Linked DNA regions of Homo sapiens: region 1 is linked to region 2. The links come from fine-mapping of genetic effects on gene expression. A gene starts in region 2. The other region holds a variant in brackets. All regions are shown on one strand. Distances are between the middles of the regions. Region 1 has its middle 59 kb from the start of LINC02839. Region 2 holds the start of FABP12 (fatty acid binding protein 12).

The links. PIP is the estimated chance that this variant, and not a neighbour inherited with it, causes the effect.
Region 1: its variant is the best candidate, but not a certain one, in a credible set for the expression of FABP12 in testis (GTEx, PIP 0.63).

The regions. Positions count from the first base shown.
Region 1 is chr8:82,218,069-82,221,003 of GRCh38, forward strand. No RefSeq gene overlaps it. Among named protein-coding and RNA genes, the nearest start is that of LINC02839, 59 kb to the left of the region's middle. The variant C/G (reference allele first, on the strand shown) is at 1,618.
Region 2 is chr8:81,532,564-81,535,498 of GRCh38, forward strand. It overlaps FABP12 (fatty acid binding protein 12), which reads right to left and starts at 1,304. Exons shown (of 5, transcript NM_001105281.6): 1 at 1,239-1,304. All of the region lies in intron 3 of LOC101927118 (a long non-coding RNA gene), which reads left to right.

The DNA of each region.
Region 1 (2,935 bases), 690 kb after region 2:
CTGGGATTTCAATTACATATATAATAGATCATTATTCAGCTCTTGGGTGCTTTGTTCTAACTTTTTTCACTCTTTTTTTTTTCCCTTTGTGTTTTAGTTGGAGTAACCTGTTGGCCTGAGTTCAATTTTAATGATTTTTTTCCCTCAATTGTGTTGTGTGTACTGTACTGAAAAGGGCATTTTTAATCTGTTTTGTGTTTTTTTATTTCTAAAATTTTGATTTGGTCTTTTTTTATAGTTTACATATCTGTGTTGAAGTTACCTGTGTAAATTTGCATTGTAACTTTTCCTTATTTAAATTACCTGTGTAATTTTGCATTGTAACATCACTATCTTTTAATAATCATAATAAAATAATGATTATTATGTAAAGGAGATGTATATGTATAAAGATATAGATACACATTCATATATGTAGGGATATATATGATAGGAATCATATATATCCCTATATTATAAGGATATATATCTTTATACTATATATATGTATAAAAGATAGGGATCATATCCATACCTGTATATAAGGGTATATAGAGAGTATAAATATATATAGTATAAATATATATAAATATATGAATGTATATCTATATCTTTCTACATATATATTTCCTTCACATAGTAATCATAATTATTTCATTATATTTATTTATATAGTATATATAAGCATATACTATAAACACAATTATTTATATATTTACGCATACATGTATATCTCCTTTAACATAATAATCATTGTTACTTTAAATTATCTTTCAGTTGTGAGTTCTATGTCATATCTGATTATGGTTGTGATTATTTCTTTGTCTCTTGAGCATATGTTTCTTCTTGCTTTTTTGGTATGACTCAATTTTGTTAAAGTCTGCTGTACTCTTTGTGTAGGACAACAGAGACTGCAGTAAGTGATTTTTATGCCTGGAAGTAAATACACCTTGTAGATCATATAGGCCTTTAGTTCGAGACTTTGAGCTAATCTAGTTGGGATGTGGGTTTGGGTTGAAGTTTGCTGTTGCTATAGTTACCATCAGTGTACCATGACCTTCACATCTCCGTAGTAATAAAATGTATTTTAGGTGGGGCTGGTGTAGGAATACCTTGTAATTAAGTTGGAACAATGTCTGTTCCACCTACAACATTAGGTTGCTCCTTTCCTCTGTACTTCAGAGAAAAAATTCTTTGCATGAGTTGTTCCTCGGCTAGTCCTCTACCAGAAGAATCCATTGTTAGGTTTTACTCAAGAATTGCCAGCTTGGCAGTGGTGGGCAGCAGGTGGGAGGTTTCTCTGTTGTTCACATTAAGCCTTAGTCTTAGGCATTCCATTCCATTCTCCTATCATTCCCTGACTGTAGATCTGGATGTTGTCTGTCTTTCTGCTCCTCCTTTCTGCTTTAAAATTTATTTTTCCTCTTTCATTTTTCTCAGCTGCAGTGAATCTTAATTAGTGTCTTAAGATGACAGTGTTTATGCCTCTCTCCCCTTCCCCCAAAATTAAGATGTTTTTACCATGGTAGAATTAGGGGAAAAAGGTCTGTATTCATTCCTTCTCAAGCTGTTATAAAGAACTGCTTGAGACTGTGTAATTTATAAAGAAAAGAGATTTAATGGACTCAGTTCTGCATT[C/G]CTGGGGAAGCCTCAGGAAACTTACAATCATAGCAGAAGGTGAAGGAGAAGCAAAGGCATGTAGAGAGTGTGTGTCAGCACAGGAAAAACTACCATTTATAAAACCATCAGATCTTGTGACAATTCACTATCATGAGAACAGCATGGGAGAAACCACTGCCATAATCCAATCACCTCCTGCCAGGTCTCTTTGTAAACACCTGGGGATTACAATTCAAGATGATATTTGGGTGCGGACACAAAGTCTAACCATATCAGGATCCATGCAAGTTGTGTGCTTCATCCATAGCAGCTGCTATTTCTCTCCTCAGGTCTCCTCCAGAACGTTCACTTTCTTAGTGCTCCCTCTCTCCTTTTGTATGACTGACCAAGGTGGGTTCTGAGGGAAAAAAAATGCAAGAGTGTGTGGGCTTCCTCTGTTTATTCATAATATTCTGTCAGCCCACACTTGACCTTCACCAATTTGTCAACCCTTGAAGCTAAACTCTTTACTCGTGTCTAGCTGCATCTATTTCAGAAAAGCAAATGCTCATGTCTTCTGTCTCCCTGAAGGTACAAGTCATTCCACTAATTTTTGCACGTTTATTGGTCTGTGCCTTCAGTTCTTCACTGGGCTTGAAAAATAATTAATTTTCAGATTGTTTGGCTATTTTTTATTGTAAGGGTGGGAGCTATAATCTTGCTACTCTTTACAGCTGTTCTACATCCTAGAAATTGATCAAGTCACCTCCTTTCCATCCTGGAGACATTCATCCAGTAATGAAAGAGAATGAATTACTGGTCTCTTGTTCAGTTCCTTCTTTCTTAATATGTTTGTCATAAGTTTGCGTGTATATCTTTATTTGTTTTTGAATTGATTTATATTTTGCATTTTTAACAAGAAACGTGTATATGTATATATGTAACTGCTTTTGTCTAAGTTTTACTTCTAGGTACTCCTAAATATATGCATGACATATATATTGTATATCTTATAGTATTTCACAAAGCTTCAATATCAGGCTACTTTCTGAAAAAGCAGTGAACTAAACAATAAGAAGTCAGAGAATAAACAATGGATTGCTTAATAATGAGTGAATATTCAGATGGAGTTTTTTTCTTTCCTCAGGTTCCCATATGGTAAGTTCCATAAGAGATTTTTAAGAGCTCTCTTCCACTAAAAAATAATGTAGATTTCTGTGTTCTATTGCTGTATTTATTCGTATTTATTCTTGCCATATATATTTTTTAAAGATATATATGTGTGTAAGTAGAAAATATAACTCTCCTTCCAGTTTTGGAGTATTTTTAGTTTTATCATTTTATAAGCATTACTCTT
Region 2 (2,935 bases):
TGTAATCCCAGCACTTTGGGAGGCCCAGGCGGGCAGATCATGAGGTCAGGAGTTCAAGATCAGCCGGGCCAATATGGTGAAACCCTGTCTCTACTAAAAATACAAAAATTAGCCAGGCATGGTGCAACGCACCTGTAGTCCCAGCTACTCGGGAGGCTGAGGCAGAAGAATCACTTGAACCCAGGAAGCAGAGGTTGCAGTGAGCCAAGATCGTGCCACTGCACTCCACTGCACTCCAGCCTGGGCAACAGAGCAAGACTCCGTATCAAAAAAGCAAAACAAAACAAAACAAAAAGCCTTAGTTCATTGGTTGGTTTTCCTGAGTAATTTGTACGACTGTGCTCATTCAACTTAATAGGCATGAGGCTGAAGCCAGGAAATGACCCAACATTGAGGGTAATCTGGGCACTGAAGGCACTACAATTCCCAGGATTTTTCAAGAAAATGTCGAATGTGCTGCCACATATGTCGGATGCACATGGATCCCCTCCCACAAGGAAAATCACGATTGAAGATCACCTCCTTGAAGATGTCGTATTGGGAGCGGTGTTTTTCCCTGTTGCTGACAGGTTAGACTTGCACAGGCGTCAGTACTGAGGTGTGAGACGGAGCCCATGTATGGCTTCTATCTCTGCACTGTGGCTGCTCCGTTCATGTGTCAGTCACATCAGCTCAGAGACTGCCTAATGTCAACTGGCCTAGTCATTTTGTCTACTCTGTTGTTCAGTGCCTCTTCTGTGATTGATGCTTTCTAGTGTTCATGAATACAAGAGCCAAAAATCTTCACATATTTTGCCCACTCCTATAGGTTCACACACATTCCTCTCCACCAAACATTCTTGTCTGCAATTTTTCAGTCCTCCTTCCAGGTCCCTGACCAGCTTTTCAGACGATTCGCTTCCACCCATGAGTATATATATGTTCCCATTCCAAGCCACTGTGTCCTCCACATGAAATAGGGAACAGGTGCATGACTCTGAGCTTTGTCCATTGATATGATTTTCCTTACCAGTTCCTCAAGTCCCCCCCACATCCCAAGTGTCATGAAACCACTGCCCATTTTTAACTTGCCTCCACACCCTGTGCTGACTGGTACATTAAACATGCTCAGGTTTTTTCTCCTCCTTTAGCTGGTCACGTGGGACCCACATACTGTCTGGGGCATGATCTGAAGGAGGGGTGCTGGTGCTGCAGTGGTGGGTGACATGGGGATCTGCACCACCTGCTCATGCAGTTACCTTAGGACTTCTGGTCTTGTTTAGGCTTGACCCCAGATGCACAATCTGATCTCACGATGGACTTCTGCTGGACATACCTGACTTGATGACTCTGTGGGTCTGACGGAACCTGGCTCATAATGGACACTTCCAGATACATTGTTACTTGATATCCTATAGTCAAGAATTCTGTCTCTATGGGGCCCCAGTAACACATTAGGCACTCTGTTTTAATAGGTGTATAAGTCTCTGTTACAGATGGCATGATCTTTCTTCACAACCCCAGACATTGGTGCTATGATGCTCACCCACACACATACATACACACACTCTCTCTCTCACACACATACACACACACCATACACATTATATTGCATATTTTCCTCTCACTAACACCTCCAGCACCGTGGAGTTTACCAATCACATGACCCAAGCATCAGGGCAGCTCATATCACAGCCCTTCCTTCCTGCAGACCCTTTCCTGCTCTGGGCTCCACTCAAAGCAGGGAGCCTTTCATGCCATCCAGTATATGGGCTGCAGCACATGCCTAAATGTGCAATATGTTGCCACCATAAGCCAAAGAGTCCCACAAGAATTTTGATAGAACAGGCAAAATGTAGCAATTTGTCTTTTGGAAAAGATTTCCTTATATGTCCCTGGTCAAGCTGGACCCCTAAAAACTTTACTAGAAGTTGCCTCAATCATTACCAACTTTAACTCTCATATTCTGTGTTGAATGTGTCTTACCAAGGCCTCCATTATACTAGCCACTTCTTGTTCATCCTGCCTGATAACATGATATTGTGCCAAGTGTCCAGACAGCCTAGATCTCATCTGATTATATTATGATAAAGAGTAGGAGTTAACATAGCCACAGGACTATGTAACAGGTGGCTCATGCCTGTAATCCCAGTACTTTGAGAGCCCAAGGTGGGAGGATCACCTGGGGTCAGGAGTTTGAGACCATCCTAGCCAACATGGCAAAACCCCGTCTCTACTAAAAATTACAAAAATTAGCTGGGTGTGGTGGTGGGCACCTGTAATCCCAGCTTCTCGGGAGGCTGAGGCAGGAGAATCACTTGAACCTGGGAGGTTGCAGTGAGCCGAGATCACACCACTGCACTCCAGCCTGGGCAACAGAGTGAGACTCCAACTCAAAAAATTAAAAAAAAAATGTAAACATGTGTCATTGTCTGTTCCATGCAAATGCAAATGGTTTCTGATCTTTCCTGATTGAGGTAGGAAAGAATGTGAAATGTGGTCTGACTGAACACCATGTACCTGACACTGTATTAATCTGCACTAACAAAGATAACACATCAAGCACAGTAGCCCATCATTGGGGTTATTAGTTGATTTTTCACTAGGCTAGAAATATTCTAAGATTCACTTGGATTTTGCAGTGATCAGACTCATGAATTAAATGGTGCTATGATATGAACCACCACCTTCTGCAGTCTTAAAGTCCTTTTGAGTAGCCCCAATTTCTGTCATTCCTCACTCCTCCCCTGCCACCGAATACAATGTTTTTTATTCACCATCTTATCAAGGGATGGAGAGAGGATAGCAGTGAAGAAGGTGGGAGTGTGGGGGTGCAGTTTCAGAAGCTTCCATTTTGCCTTCCCCACTATAATAATTCTTGTTTGAATTAGAAAATGAGAAAGGTGGAGCTTACTCCAACAGCCAAGGAGTCAATCCCAATTACGCATTCAAGGCC